Linked DNA regions of Homo sapiens: region 1 is linked to region 2. Evidence: fine-mapped expression QTL. A gene starts in region 2. The other region holds a variant in brackets. All regions are shown on one strand. Distances are from middle to middle. Region 1 holds the start of LINC00545 (long intergenic non-protein coding RNA 545). Region 2 holds the start of MEDAG (mesenteric estrogen dependent adipogenesis).

What was found.
Region 1: its variant is fine-mapped to the expression of MEDAG in adrenal gland (GTEx, PIP above 0.99).

Annotation. Positions count from the first base shown.
Region 1 is chr13:30,876,438-30,884,769 of GRCh38, reverse strand. It overlaps LINC00545 (long intergenic non-protein coding RNA 545), which reads right to left and starts at 2,208. Exons shown (of 2, transcript NR_103813.1): 1 at 2,111-2,208; 2 at 1,375-1,676. TEX26-AS1 (TEX26 antisense RNA 1) reads left to right here. Exons shown (of 4, transcript NR_038287.1): 3 at 710-832; 4 at 1,435-1,935. The variant C/T (reference allele first, on the strand shown) is at 3,612.
Region 2 is chr13:30,903,083-30,911,414 of GRCh38, reverse strand. MEDAG (mesenteric estrogen dependent adipogenesis) reads right to left here and starts at 5,144. Exons shown (of 5, transcript NM_032849.4): 1 at 4,622-5,144. The coding sequence starts at 4,899. The region is part of intron 2 of TEX26-AS1 (TEX26 antisense RNA 1); the gene reads left to right. RefSeq lists an enhancer at 4,042-4,543.

The DNA.
Region 1 (8,332 bases), 27 kb after region 2:
GGGTGGGGAAGCCAGCTTCCCTCAAGCTATGTAAACATCACACTAGGTCCAACCAATCTTTGGGCCCTATGTAAATCAGACACCGCCTCCTCAAGCCTTTCTATAAAACCCTGTGCACTCCACGACCAGCCGGAACTCCCACTCAGGTGCCCTTCTCTCTCTCGCAGAAGAGAGAGCTGTTTTCTTTTCTCTTTCTTTTGCCTATTAAACCTCTGCTCCTAAACCCACTTCCTGTGTGTCTGCATACTCGATATCCTTGGCATGAGATGGCGAACCTCAGGTGTTTACCCCAGAGAATGATGTTTCTTTGGAATTGCTGAAACATATGGTAATTCTATGTTTAATTTGTTGAGGCACCACCATATTGTTTTCCATAGTGGCTGCACCATTTTACATTCCTGCCCATTCCCAATGCATCCGGCTTCCAGTTTCTCAATATCCAACACTTGTTATTTTCTATTTTTTTTTTTCATTAGTAGCCTTCCTAATGAGTGTGAAGTGGTATCTCATTGTGATTTTGATTTGCATTTTCCTAATGATTGATTAGTGATGCTGAGCATCTTTTCATATGCTTATTGACCATTTGTATACATATTATCTTTGGACAAATGTCTATTCAAGTCCTTTGCCCATTTTTTATTTGGACTGACTTTGTTGTTGTTGAGTTGCAGGAGTTCTTATTTTTAAATATTTAATTTTTTTTTTTTAGAGACGGGGTCTCACTGTATCAGCTCAGCTGGAGTACAGTGGTGAGATCAGAGCTCACCGCAGCCTCCGGGCTCCTGGTCTCAAGCAATCCGGACCTCAGCCTCCCAAGTAGTGGGGACTACAGGTGTGCACTACCACATCCAGCTAATTATTTTTTTTCTTTTTGTAGAGATGGAGTCCTACTTTGTTTCCCAGGCTGGTCTTGAACTCCTTGCTTCAAGCAATCCTCCCATCTCTGCCTCCCAAAGTGTTGGAATTACAAGCATGAGCCACTGTGCTTGGCCAGGAGTTCTTTATATATTCTGGATATCAATCCCTTATCAGATATATGATTTGCAAATATTTTCTTTGATTCTCCTTGGGTTGCCCCTTCACTCTGTTGATTGTGTCCTTTGATACATTTGAAACCCTCCTGAGCCCTTCCCTCTGGTATCCTGCCCCTGCTCTCAGGCTGCTCTATCCTTTGCATGGGGTTCTTGGGTATCGGGGTACTCCTCCACCTTGTATCCTGCTGCCTCCCTGGGTGGGCTGCACCCACTGAGGGGTGAGGGAGTGGCAGGTGCTTCATTCCTCTGTGATTTCTGCCCCAGTCCTCTTCTAACAAACGCAAATCCTATTATGAGAATTTGCTAACACGTTTTAAAAATACGCAAATGTATTGGGAGCTTATTTCAGAGACAATTTTTATTTTAAAGAAAAAGTAACTTATATATTTTTAAAATCTAGAGAATGTACAACTCCTCTGCCACAACGTGAGGGAGAGAAGTCTGCAGACGGCTGACTGGTGACGACTGAACAAGACGGAAAGGCAAGTCGCTATGCCCGAAGCCTTTGAAGGGAGCCAGCAGGGTCCATGGGAGGTTCAGGACACATATCTGCAGCCCTGCTTCTGGCCCCACCCTTGGGGAAGCCTTTTGCAGGTGATCCTGGGCCTCTGCTGGGGAAGGCCCCAAGAGGTGAAGCATCCTCTGCAGAGGAGAGAGCACATCCGGAAGTAGAAGACAGACCACTGTCTGGGCTCCGTTTAACTGCTGTGATTTGGGATTGTAACTTACTCCCGTAAAGCCTCAGTTTCCCACATGGAAAATCAAATCGATCATTGTTATAACATTTCACTTTTTTGTTATGTGATGTAATTTACACAGTGCTTTCGTATACGTTATCCAATTTAGCGAAATAATACAGAGCAATGCATTTTGAAAAGAATAAAATGCTTAACATATGTGAGGAATTCTTTTTTCCTTTGAAAACTACTCCGGATGGCTTGGCTATTGTTTAGTTAAGAGAATTATACAATTTTTGAGACATGGTTCCTTATCTTGTGTAGGCTGAAAGGCAATTAAACAATTATTCATGTCAGAATCTGAGGTAAATAAAAGGCTGCTTCAAAGAGTCCACTTACGGAGTGAAAAGCAGTTGAGTAGAAACAGAGAGTGGTCTGTAATTTCCTTCTGGAAGGAATATCCACTCCATATGGCCTGAAGCAAGAATTTCAAACTCCTCTGTGGGGAGAAAGAGACAGAAATAAAAACTTTTAAGTTTTTTTACTCCGATTTGTCCCAGCCATTTTCTGAACAGCCTATGGAAGCCATCCGCTCCTCTAAACAAAAATAAGCTAAGAGACAGAAAGAATGATTTGATTTCCGTGTGTAGGGATGGTTCAGTCATAAATCAGTGTATTTTTTCCAAGAGGAAGGTGCCAGCAACAAAAGTTGGTCATAAAAAGGACATTAAACTTTAGTAGTCTCTTCACTGTTCCCTCCCACATCCAGTTGCCAACAGCAGAGACAACTGTGAGACACAGTGAAATGAAGTGACTGCTCCACTGCTGGGCAACAGGAGACCCGGATGCCAGGCTCCCTGGCAGAAGAAATAGAAAGTCAATAGCAAACACAGATGTCTTCCTCCCTACCACATCACCTCCACTTTTCACCATCGCCTGTGTGATACAACCACCCCGCAATGCCTTCCTCAGCCTTTTACTTCTGTTTCCAGTGAGTCAAGAAAAACTTCTCCAGCTTGCCCTGTGGAGATGAATGAGCCCATAATCCACTTACACGTGTGACCTTTACACAGCCAGGACCCCCATAGAGCAGCCAAACATGCAGTCTTGTAAACAAAAGGAATTTCAAGATAACTCTGATCTTTCACTAATTATCCCAAAGCCCAAAGGGGATCCATATACATAGTCCGAAGCCTACTTTAAGGAGGCATCCTCCCCTGTGTATTCCCAGCCCATCCCATAGTTTCCCACTCTGCAGCTCCAAACTCAACTTGTCCCATCACCAGCCCCCAGCCTCTCTTCTTTCCCTCTCCCCATGCCCCACTACCTCTATTTTTTATTATTGCAGATTGACCAAATGTCTATGAAGCTGCAGCAAGGTTTCTTCTTTTTTGGAGCAGGGAATGGGGAGTGATTGGGCTTGGCTGTGACAGATTGTTTTGGCAGGCTCAGTGGGCAGAGGCGGTGAACACCATCCCAGTAAGTAAAGGGACTGTAGGAGCGTAGAGTTCCCTTAGTTCCTGGCTGGAAACCCAGCTCCCTGCCTCCTCCCATCCATCAAGCTGGGAGCCATGACAGTGTCAGAGCCTGAGCTCCAGCCCAGACTTCTGGGTGAAGTGGTCCCATGGAGCAAAGCTTGGTTTGGAAGATTTGGAGAATGGGAAAGAATGTTCTCTTACCACAACCTCTTCCCCACTGCGGCCCCTTCCTAAGCTGCCATTGAAATCTATTTTTGCCAGAGCAAAAAATGGGGGAAGTGGACAGCTTCTGCCAACAGTGAGTTTGTTCCAAGCCCACCCCACAGTCATGGGTTCCTCAGAGTGTCACTGAATCACAGGACTCATGGAAATCTGCCCATGTCATGAAGATAAACCACTGTGATCACTTTTAAAATCTTTCT[C/T]ATCATGTCCTTGGGAAGATAAAGGGGTGGAACTGAACAGAAAGGGGCAGAGGTGGGACTTTTTTTCACTAACCTTAACCTTCATGCCAAGAACAGAGATCTCTGTTTGAAAGCATGTCTCCGATGACCATTTATTTGCTCTGCCTGGTAAACCTTCGTGTAATGCGTGGCTTTAAGCATTAGTCATTCCCTGCTGGGAAGGAGGTTAGAACTCCAGAAACAAGGCTATTGCAGAACTGGACTGTGTGGGTCACTAAACCACAGGGGAAAGGGTGGAGAAGCAGCTGGTGTCCCGCTTAAAGGTCACAAAGCATTATTTCTACTTTAATACCCAGAGTTCAAGTGGAAATAAACTCAGAAGGTTAAGATCTAAGTGAAAATTAACTGAAGGCAACTGTGCCATTTGGACTCTGAGATGTGCTTGCCTGGGAAAGTGCAAAACACACTGGCTATCTTTCCATGAGCACAGCTGAACAGGAATAGGCATTAATAAGGATAAACATAAAGAAAAAATTGCTAATTATTGGCAGAGAATGCCAAGAAAAGTTGGTGGAATTCTCTTCTTTGGGGACCCTGGGAAAAGAACAGTAACAGTTAGGTACAGAGGCGCCTGGAAGCAAAGAAACTTCTTTCCCTGGGACAGTGGCTCTGTGCTGTGTGTAACCCTGAGTTCTTTAGGTCACTATAGTCTGGGTGAGTGACTCCAGGGTTGTAGGATGCAATAGCCATGCTAATGAAAACTCACTGGTTCTGAGCCCCCTTCCAGAAGTACTGTGGGTACTTTCAGCCTCTTTTCTCCCTGCAGAGTCTCAAAGAGCTCATGTTCTGTCCTTGGTGATTAATACAGATTTCTTGGCTCTTCCCAGCCTGCTAGTCAGTGAACTTAATTTGCCACTTCTGTTGCTAATCATAACTCTTGCCTCAGCATCAAGCTGATCATCCTTGCAGCTGTAGATATTGGCCCTCCTGCACTGGATGCTCGCAGAGAGGGGAAGGCAGTCTCCTAATCACCATTTCTAATAAAAAAACGAGAGGCTTGCATTCTCACTCTCTTGCTGAGCTTCTCCTGATGGAGCTAGCCATGAGGTTCCTGATGGCTGGAGGAAATATGAGGATATCTTCCCCAGAACACCCACCACACCTCTCTCAACAATCAACTCATGTTCCAGGACAGATGCTGTGAACAACAGCAAATGTAGAGCAGGTACTAGAAACTATGATCAGTGCTTTACATAGATGATCTCATTACATCTTTACTGTAAGCCCATGAGGTAGGTACTCTTATGGTCCCTATTCTACAGATGTGCAGAGAACCAGCACCTCAACTCTCTGATTTCAAGTTGAGAGGTTGGGGTTGGCCTGGTTGGCTCTTCAAGTCAAGAGGACATTTTATTCTGTCCCATCAAGTGACCTTTGGGTCACCAAGGCATTAGTTCTCAGTGGATATTGCTGGTGTGCCTGACGGAGGTGGCCATTAGGCCTCCCTCCATTACACATGCCGATAGCTCTTGGTTTTCTTTTATTTGCAATACAATTCAAAAATGTGAATAAAACCTCAAAAAATAGGGAAATGAAGTCTGAACAATAAAAATAGCTGAGATATTGAGTATTTAGTCTTGCCAGGCACTGTTTGCCAAGCACTGTTCTGTGAGGACAGTGCCTGGCAACATTAAATACTCAGTATCTTAGGAGGTAGGTACTATTATCATCCCCATTTTACAGGCCGCCAAGAGGTTAAGTGACTTGCACAAGATTGCACAGCTCTTAATTGGAGAAGCTGGCATTCAAATCCAGCAGTAGCATCGGCCTGTTCCTTGCCAAATACAACAAGGCTTTCTACCTTCTTGGATGTTTATTTCCTACCACACTTTTAAAAACAATTCACCAAACACGTAAGAAGTAGCTAAAACAAGGGGCTCACATTCAATGTGTAATGTAGAGGTGCAGCTTTGTGGTTGGTTCCTTCTTTCAGTTAAGTAATGAAAAATGATACAACACATAAAAATATAACAAAACCGAAAGAGGTGAGTGCCCTAAGGAGGATACAAATACAGCCCTGTGGAAGCTAAAGTGTTGGAAGAGATCCTGCTGAGTTAGGTCCCAAAGAATCACTAGGATCTCCACGAACAGAGATGGGAAACAGACAGTAGCACTGTAAGCAGGAAAAGAACTTCGTGGTGGAAAAGTGTCCTGGGGTCCAGAAATAGTGAGATACTGATATCTGATGGATCAAGTAGGAAGTCATGGATGATTCCAGGATGAAAAAAAATTCATAGATTCATCAGAACAATTAGCAGGTGAAATTTAGCAATATTTTCAACACACCTTCAAAAACACTTGGTAGTGGCACATGGGGCAGAAGAGTCCCATATATATGGATGTCCAGGTTTACACCAGATGTCCTGGCAACCCATCGGGTTAGCAACCCTAACCATTCTCAAGATCCTTGCATGGACAATAAATTATATGACCACCCTGTATCTGGCAAATTGAAAGATAGGGCCCAACACTTAGGTGTATTAACGGTGCTTAAGAAGTCATATTGTGGCCAGGCATGGTGGCTGACACCTGTAATCCCAACACTTTGGGAGGCTGAGGCAGGAGGAGCACCTGCGCCCAGGAATTCCAGAACAGTCTGGGCAACATGGAGAAACCCCATCTCTACAAAAACAAAAAACAAAACATAATTAGCTGGGTGTGGTGGCACACAACTGTAGTCCTAGCTACTCAGGAGACTGAAGTGGGAGGATTACTTCAGCCCAACAGGTTGAGGCTAGAGTGAGCCGTGATAGTGCCACTGCACTCCAGCCCAGGCAACAGAGTGAGAACCTGTCTCAAAACCAACAAACAAAAAACCAAAACAAACCCACAAATAAGTCATATTTTAAAAGCCTACATCTCAATGCCTAGCTAAGCTTTATAAAGAATGCGGGCTCTTTGACACTTGTTTACAATTGCAACCATAGTTGGTTTTGGAAGTGTCAGTTCTTCCCACAACCCTATTTGGTGTGAGCCGTTTTGCACAAGGTAACCCAACTAGTGTCTGCCACAGAGATATGCAGGAAAAGCCAGCCTTTGATGAACAAATAGTCCCCATCTATCTGGAGTTAATGTATAGTAAAGAAAAAACCTGGTTAAACACACACTGGCATAAACTGATAAAGCTAATTTTTATCCAAGCCCACTTTTGGATTTCAAACAACTGAAGTCAAAGAAGTTAATTAAAAACACATAGAGTTGTCAATGAGTTTAAAAATAAAACACAAATTTATTCGAAATAATGAGACTTAACTAACTCTGTGGTAGACTAGTTGGCTAGTCTTTTGCAGAAGAGCCAACCTATTTGTACCTGAGATAAAACATATTCAGAAAGAAGGAAAACTGCAAAGTGGTCCCAGAACAGAGAAAGCAACAAGGAGAAGGCTTAACTGTCCTTTCAACTTTGAGGTGCAATCTGTCTACAGGGCTCCCTTGGGGGAAGCACAAGCTCTTTCTTTTAGTCTGATTTTGTTGATTGATGCTGTGTTGTTGCTGGATTGTATTACTATGTGAAGTTGAAAGGCTTAATGTTAATGTGTCTTAAACTTCAAGACTTGGAATGCATGATCCCATTTAAACTTGACCGTTCTGGGCAATGTGTTTTGATTGGCTGGATGTCTAGCTTGTGCATTTCTGTCATTTCCTAATGTGTGTGGTATGCTTTGAGCACTGCAGACAGGAAACTCACTTTTTCTCTGGCTTTCTTCTGATTTTTCTGTTTCTTGATTATTGGAAAAATGAATAAACACATAAAAATAATAATAAAGTGTCACCCCAAAAGTCTTATCTTTAAAATAATGTGGAATGGCAATGCTAAAAATAAAGCAACTTGAACTAATTTCCACTATGAATAGGGAACAAAGAATCTGCACCTTCCCTGATTTTGGATTCCAGATTCCAAATATTTCATAAATAAAATATGGCCAGCCACATGAATTATAAGGTATATACCATGTGAGTTACATACACAGGGAGAGGTTGTTTTTAAAATTTCCTGCTGGCAAAGTCAGACTTATCCTTCTTTTTTTTTTTTTTTTTTTTGAGACAGAGTCTCACTCTGTCGCCCAGGCTGGAGGGCAGTGGCACAATCTCTGCTCACTGCAAGCTCCACCTCCCGGGCTCACGCCATTCTCCTGCCTCAGCCTCCCGAGTAGCTGGGACTACAGGTGCCCACCACTATACCCGGCTAATTTTTTGTATTTTTAGTAGAGACGGGGTTTCACCGTGTTAGCCAGGATGGTCTCCATCTCCTGACCTCGTGATCCACCCGCCTCGGCCTCCCAAAGTGCTGGGATTACAGGCGTGAGCCACCGCGCCCAGCCAGACTTATTCTCATTGCCACTATTAAACCTGTCAGATAAAACCATTCCAGGATGAAGTTGGAGATACGTCATAGTACATTTTAACCCATTTATGCCTGAGGTTGCAATTTTTTGAGTGTGAAAAATCAGACCCTGGTGATGACCTTGAGCAGTAAGACATAAATAACTCCCACATGCTTAGTGTTCCAATAATGGAACACTAGGCATAAATAGGTTTTAATATAAAAGCTTAAAATTTGTACTCCAAAGTAGGGAAAACTTGATTATATTCATTTACTCTCTATTAGGAGCATCACATCAGCTATATTTTTAAAGGAAGAAAAAGCATGTCATTTCCTTTGTATGCATATCGTCTAAACG
Region 2 (8,332 bases):
AGAAAGGAGACCCAAGTGTGGCTGCAAGTCCAGAGCCTGGCTCTGAAGAAGGCAAGCAGGAAAGATGGTCAGGTGGCACATTGCTGTAGACTCATCAGATCTGAGTGTGATTTCTGTCTCTGTGACCTCAGCTAGTGTTTTAACCTTGCAGACATTCATTTTCCTCACCTGTAGAATCTGGCTAAAAAAAGGCACCCCATGAGTGGCTAAGAGATTCAATAATGTGTGTAAAGCTCTTGGCTTCTGGTGCTGCTTAATGGTATTATTACTATTCCCACTTTATAGTTGAGGAAATGGAGTCCCATGGACAATAAGTAAATTTCCCAAGGTCATTCAGCTCGCAAAGAGCAGAGCCCTTCCTCTAGACTGACTCTCCTAAAAATCTCACAGCTCAATGCATGGATGGTTATTATTTCACCAACATCACTGTGTGTCCTGCTAAGGGGCTGCTGTCCTAAGCAGGTTGCTACATCTAAGACCACATCTTCCAACCTCCCAGCCTCAAGTTGGAATCTCTTCTGAGAACTGGGCCTGGGCCAGCAGACAGAGCCCAGCACTTCCCACTGCAGGATGGAGGTGAGGCTTCCCCCAGTAAACTTCCAAGTGTGTTCCAGCCCTACTGTCCTCATTTTACCCCTATGAGTGCCGCTTCACCTCACCTGCATTCTCCGCCCTGAGTAGGTGTGACTGTCACCCATCCAGGAGCAGGTCACAGCTCTGCTTTTAGTGGCTTCCTTAAAATCACTGCACTTACTTACTTTTGTAGGCTGATTGTACAAAATGTGCACTAGCTGACATAATTCCAGTTATTTATTTGTAGATTCAGGAAATGAGTGAGAAAGCAAGATTATTTCAGGTTCAAAGTAATTTGCTGAAAGCATAGGTTCTCCTGGTTCTCCCACTTAGCAGCATCTTACCTAGGTAAATTACTTAAGCTCTGAGTCCTAATGCTTACATCTGTAAAAAGGAGAAACAACAGTAATGCAAACTTTGTAAACTTTTATGAGATAGTAGCTGTGAAATACTTTACACCATTCGAGTAAATGTTAGTAGCCACCATTTCTATTGTATTTATTTTTATTCTCCAGGCAGCCTCTTTCATGCTAGGGGAGCACCAAAAAGAAGGGACTCCAGGTCTTCTTTGCCAAACGTTTGCCATTATATTTCACCAAGAGGCTGCTTTATAGGAAAAAACATGTGTGTGTGTGTGTGTGTGTGTGTTTGTGTGTGTGTCGTAGTTAATGGTAATTTTGACTTTTAAGTATTGAATGAATGGCTCCCTGAATGACCATTACCCACATCTCGTGTCCTGAGCACATTGTGTTTACAACATGGGCGAAAATCCTGATCTTGAAAGAAAATAATAAAAATAAAGATCTTGCCATAAATCCTACAAAATAGGACAAATATTTTTAAAGTAGGTTTTTGAAGGAGCTTTAGAGCTGGTGGTCATCACTAAACCTTCCCACTATGCTGGATTTCTTTAGGTTACTTAGTAGGTATGTACTTAGAAAAAATGTTAAAGTATTAGAAAATGAACCTAAGTAGGGCTGCTAAAATCATCCTGTTGCTCTCTTAGCGAGTGAATAACCTGAAAGTCAAGGTCGGTGGCTCTTAGCCTTTCGGGGTTCCTTGGAAAAGGGCCTCATGAAAGCCACAGTACATACTTATGAGGTCCCAGAAAGAAATTCTAATTACACCAGGGGCTTATCCCATATGCCAAAAATATTTGTTGAGTTAAAAAGAACTAATTAATTAATAGAGCAAGGATTCTTAACCTGGGTCCAAGTATCTCATGAACATCCTGGATGGTCAGCAAAAATTGGGTATATATTTACATTTCTGGGGAATCTACGTAGAATTCTCAAAAGTTCTATGGTCCAAAATGATTAAGAACCATTTTGCCTTTTGGGATCCCTGGCCATCTTGGTGGCTGCTTTTGGTTAGAGGCCATCCCACATCCAAGGCCAGAATATGGTGGCCGCAAAGAAGACGAAAAGTCACTGGAGTCCATCCACTCTAGGCTCCAACCCATTAAGGGTCAAAAATACAAGCTGGGGCAATCCGGCTCTGAAGATGATAGACAAGGCAAAGTGAAACCGGTCATCCCCACCAACTGCCTGGCCTCGAGGAAATCTGAAATACAGAACTAAGGTGCATACTCTCAAAACTGCCATCTACCACTCCAGCAGTAATAACATTAAATTGGGCACAGCATGTGGAAAATACCATAGCAAGTGCACCCTGGTGTCACTGATCCAGGGAATGCTGAGATTTTTTTTTTTTTTTTTTTTTTTTGAGACAGGGTCTCACTGTGTTGCCTAGGCTGGAGTGCAGTGGCACCATCTCGGCTCACTGCAAGCTCCACCTCCAAGATTCAAGCCATCCACCTCCCACCTCGGCCTCCTGAGCAGCTGGGACCACAGGTGCATGTCACTATGCCCAGCTAATTTTTGTAGACAGGAGGTCTCACTATGTTGCCCAAGCTGGCCTCGAAGTCCTGGACTCAAGCAATCCGCCCACCTCAGCCTCCCAAAGTGCTGGGATTACAGGCATGAGGCACTGCACCCAGCCCTGAGATCTTTGGAAGCATGCCAGAACAGACTGGTGAAAATAAATCATGCAAATCTTTAATAAAACTGGCCAGAGCTTATTTTTCAAAAAGAAGGAAGGAAGGAAGGGAGGGAGGGAGGGAGAGAGGGAAGGAAGTGGGGAGGGAGGGAGGGGAGGGAGGGAGGTTTTATGCTATCTCTAAAGCCAAAAACAACTGGCAAATTTGGCAGCTCAGAGGAACGAAGCTTTAGATATCTGAGTTCTGGCTTCGGCATACCTCCCACCTCCTGATTCCCGAGGGCAGAACCTCTCACTGCTGCCCACAGTCCAGTCCTCCCCCTCTGCCTGGAAGGCTGTCTCCATTTAGACCACATTCCCTCCTGGCCATCCTTCAGGACTGCACACTCAGTTATAAAAGCCTCCTTCCCTGCCTGAGGACAATAGATAGCTCCTTCCATCACCCAAATTATTTTCAGAGGCTCCTTGCTATTTCCCAGGTACAAAAGAAGCCCTCACAGTATTGCTTATACAATGATAGCCTATTATTTGTTGTTTTGTATTTGCACCCTGGTCTGTGTTACCTGGTCACTGTGGCCCAGTTGTTTATTCTAGATTCAAAGCTGTCAGGGGAATCACTGTTGTTTAATTTTCTTTTGTGTAGGAGGTGTTCAAAGCAAAAGTTAGATGACAGACTTCAAAATCATTTCAGATTCTGCAGCACTGTTTGCTACAATTAGGAGAACTGGTTCTGTCAAAACCCTAACTTACGGCTTCGTTCATTCTGGACATTTTTATTTTTCATACCCTGCTCTCAAATACAATGGGTATCTTCTTTTTAAATCTGCACACATCTGACTCAGTTCCTCCCACAGTCCTCCGCTTATGGTTTGGAATTGGAATTTTCATTTCACTAAGAAAGGGAGAAATTCTTGCTGGGGAATGGTTCTTCAGGCATTCAGAGCCCTCACTATCTTTGGAAAAGCAAGGTTTTTTCTCCAAGAGTTTTGAAGACTGCACGTTCAATATCTCATTTTGTTTGCTTCCCTCTCTTGGCTCCCTCCTACCCACAGGGTGCCACAGCACGCTGTCTTTCCCAGTAGCAAAGGCGCTGTGTCTCAAAAGCTGGCTATCTTATTCATTTCTGAGTCAAACTCTAGACCATGCTTGCCTCTTCAGGCACTTGGCTCTCTCAGCACAAATATAACAGGTCTTTGCACTCCAGGCCCTTGCCAAGAGTGAACTCTGGAGGCCTGAGGCCATGTGGAATCAGGCCTGAAGTGCCCTCCTTTACCCTGTGGCACCAAAGCCTGCTTCAGATGGCTGGGCCACATCCTGCCGGTCTGCCAAGAAGAGCTTGGGGGCACTCTGGCCACAACAGTCAAGCATCCTGGGGGCCTCCTTCCCATTAAGGCCCTCAGGTTTCGCACTTATTTCCCCAGAACTTATCTGTGCCTTCCACAGCCCACATGGCCCCGGGCTGGACTTCCAGGGGCTTTGTTCCCTTCTCAGCTGCGGTTTATTTGTTTACTTTTGAAACACGAAGTGAGGCCAGAGATGGGAAACTTTGAGCTTTTGCATGCTTCTCCACTCGGTCTCCTCACTGGAGAGGGCTGGCAGTGCTCAGAATGGTGCATGCCCCCTGCTCCTCACCGCCACCCATGCTCCAAAGCCAGGATGTGAGTCTTGCAGAGCTGCAGACAGCCCCTAAAGGGTGTGCTCCCAATTTGAGCTCATCTGACCCAGTTAAGGAGCCAGAATGGGAGAAGCATCTGCCACTCATGAGCTCTGGCTGGGGGGCCCCTGCCCTCCCCCTCGCCCCCAGTCCTGATGCCCTTCTGGGCGGCTTCAAGCAGCAGCTGCAAAATGTCAGTGCAAGAGGCAGAAGAACCAGGGCGAGCGTGCAGGCTCCGGGTGATAGAAGCAGAAGGAAAGTCTAGAAGCGCACGGAGCAAGGGGCCACGCGGTGTCGCAGGCAGCGAGGACAGCCCAGGCTCCCAGAGACCGCAGCCGGGTGGAGGCGTCTGCGGGTACCAGGCGACGGGCCAGGGCGCACGGCGAGGCCACCCACCTCTTGATGTAGCTGCTGAGGCGGTAGAGCTGCCCGTCGAGGCGCACGAGGCCGTCACCGAAGACGTTGAAGCCCCCCCGCGCCGCCGCCGGCTCCCCGGGCCTGGCCACCACGAGCTGGTCGCCGCTCAGCTGGAAGGCACCGGGCTGCAGGCGCAGCAGCTGAGCCAGCGGCAGCAGGGCCAGCTCGCAGTCGCAGGTCCACAGGCTGCGAAGCTCCCCAGACGAGATGGAGGTCAGGCTCGGCCTGGCCACCGGCTCGCAGGCCGCCCCCGCCATGCCCGCGTCGTCGGTCCTCACACCGCCTGCTTCCGTCCGGTGCCTACAGCCCCCAGCCGGCACCTGATGGTCCCCAGGAGGGGCCGGGCGCCCTGCCTGCGTCAGCCGCGCGCGAGGTGAGGAGGGGGTCGGTCTGCCCGCCTGGCCGGGACGCGGTGGCCGCTCAGGTGCCAGTCTGACCGCCCGGGCGGCCCCTCCCAAGCTGCCACTCGCTGGGAGCCCTGCAGGCACCGCGCGGAGAAAGCGGCCCCGGCGCAGCGCGGCCCCTTTTATCCGCCCTCTGGACGCCCGCCTCGCCCCTGCCGGCCCACGGCCACGACCCCAGAGGCTCGGGGCAGAGTTATCATCGTCTCATAACTTGGCATGCTCGAGTCTGCTCGCAGGCAAGGCTTAGTCATCCCCCTGGGGTCCACTACTCAACACCAGCGCTGGCCCCCGCCCTGCCTGGCGGACACTGCCGGAGGCTGGAGGTGGGGAGAGTCCTCCCCGGGTTCCCAGGCCCTGCCTATGGTGGGCGGCAGGGCGCACAGCACCCATCCTTGCCTAAGACACCACACCCCTGGTGTTGATTGGAGAAGAAGGCAAGGGCTCTGGCCCTACCCATTCCACCTGGGACCCAGAGGCTGTCAAAGGCCAGTGCTGGAACTCCGATCCCCACCTCAGTACCAGACCTCTCACTCAGCCTCAGTTTTCTGCCATTTTAACTCCATCCAGATCGTACCCTGCATTTCCCTCCTTTCAGCCTTTCCTTCAGCTGGTTGCTGGCCCTGGATCCCTTCCCCCTAGAAATCCCACTGATCATCACATCGCTTTTCCATAAAGCCTTCACGAATCCCACGAGGGTTTCATCGCTTTGCTTCTCCTTTCTACTGCACGGTGAACCCTAGACTGCAATGTGCCGTGTAGTGGGGATAGCAGGGTCCTAGCATCCTCCCTTCTCCCCTGCCTCCCCAGTAGGTGGTGATCTCCTTGAGCCCCAGAATATGTTCATTTCTTCAGTCTATAAATATGTGAGTGCTAGCTATGGGCTCATTGATCTCCTGAGGTATGAAAGGAGAACTATATTATTCCATTTAATTAAACACCTATTTCTGCTGCGGAGAAGCCTGGATGGGATGGGAGGAGAATCTAGCCTAGTTTCGAGGCTTTCTGTAGTACTGTGTTTTAGGATTCTAAGCTACATCCCAAAAGTTGAGTAGAACGTAGAGAATATCCTTAGTTAGTCTTTGTGTGCCCCCACATGAACTCTTGTGTAGGTTTAATCAGATGGGATGAAGAGTCCTCCCGCCACATCTCATTTAAATCTCAGAATATAAATGAGCCCCACTCTCTTCTCTTCTTCTAGGTGCACACCTATCCTTTCTCCAGACATGGATCTTTTACCCATGGGATCATTACCCCATCTCTGGGCCTCTCTGAACAAATCTAATTCACTGAGCATGAATTGATCACTACCCACTCAACCTTTTGTGGCGCAGGAAGGATGCTCTACCTGTGAAAAAAGCATCCAGAAGATCTTCTTGCAAAGGGAGGTTTGAGGATCCCTGCAAAGAGAATGGGTCTGGGGTGGGCTGAGACTGTAGACAGGACTCAGAGGCTGGGGCTGTTTTCACAGGGGAGGGATTTGGTGCCAGCAGTTAAATCCATTGTGCCCTATTTAGAACTTCACTCTTGTCCCAAACATTGACAGAGTCATCACTATGCACCAGGGACCATCTTAAGCTCTGAGGTCACACACACACACACACAAGGATCCAATAAGTGCTACCATAGATGTATGGACTAAGCACTATGAGAAATAAGTGGTTCTGCCCCAAGAAGGGTGCTCAAAGGAGGTGACACATGGCTAGACTTCCAATACACAGGGGAGGCTCCCAGGGGAAGGAGCAGCAGCAATAAGGAGATGGGAGAGAAGATTCTGTACCATTCTATGCAAAGAGAGATGCTATGGTTCCATCTGGGGGAGGGGGGAAATTTTTAAACAGCTAGGGCAGACCATCCTATTTGGGATAAGAGGGGTCAGTTTTATATGAGATGAGACCAGAAAGGGCTGTTGGAGCCAGATTGTGACAGACCCTCTGAGTTGTCAGGAATTTGGATTCTTAAGACAATGAGGAGCCTTGGGATGTTTTAAAGAAAGGAAGTGATATAATTATGCCTCAGTTCAGATAGACACCTTTGGTTATGACCAAAGAAGATGTTTTGAAACAGGAAGATCAGAGGCAGAGAAACCAGTTAGGAGATTGATGTAATAATCCAGATAACATATGATGGGGGTCTGAACAGAAGCAGCTGTGGGAATGGAGATGAGGTTTCAACATTTTTGAGTCAGAGTCAGCAGGAAGGATCTTATGAGTAAATAAATGAAAAAGAGCAGAGAGACCCACTTAGTCTCTTGCTTGGGTACCCAGAGAGATGGTGACACCATTAACGAAGCTAGGGTTCACAGGAGGAAGAGTAGGAGTTTGAGGAGAGATAGTGATGAGTTCAGGGGGGACATACTGATTTTGAGCTACTTATGGAACATCAAGGTAGAAAAGTCCAGGAGGCAAGGAGTTAGTTGGGTCTGGCGTTTTGGAAAGACAAGGTCAATGATTGAGATTTGAAAGTCTCTAGATCAAAGACGGGGTTGAAGCCAAAGAAGTGGATGGGGGCATCTAGCTAATACATGATAGGGTAGGAATTTGAACCCAGGCCTTTAGTTTACTTCAACATATGTTAATTGAGCATCTGCTATGTTCAGTGCTTTGCTGGAGATACAGAGTTGAATAGAGGATGGCCCCTGTCCTCAAATAACAGGGAGAAATGCAGGAATCAGCATGAACTAGTCTTCTGGCACCATGTCCAAACATGTGGCTGAAATCTAGTTATATTTTGCCTGTGTCTCCAACCTGCTGGTGGAATACAACCTCAACAACAATAACAGCTGCAGAAGTTGCTTTCAATTAGTAAGTCAAGGAGGGCAGGTCCACTACAGAGCCCTCACCAGCCCCTACTCTCCCCATTCCACATAGATCGAACTCAACAACTCACCCTATGAGCTTCACATAGATCAAGCTCAACAACTCTTGATTGCCCTTAAACCTACACCACACTGTCTATGAATGATTTGGCTTTCTTGAAGGGTAAAATGTTACATCGGGGTTTTATATCAGAATTATATGCATTTGTTTAAGATAAACATACCAGTCCCTCCTATCAAAAAACCGTTTCCTGGGCAGGCACGGTGGCTCACACCTATAATTCCAGTATTCTGGGAGGCCAAGGCATGTGGATCGCCTGAGGTCAGGAGTTCCAGACCAGCCTGGCCAACATGGTGAAATCCCATCTCTACTAAAAATACAAAAATTAGCTGGGTATGGTGTTGAATGCCTGTAATCCTAGCTACTTGGGAGGCTGAGGCAGGAGAATCGCTTGAACCTGGGAGGCAGAG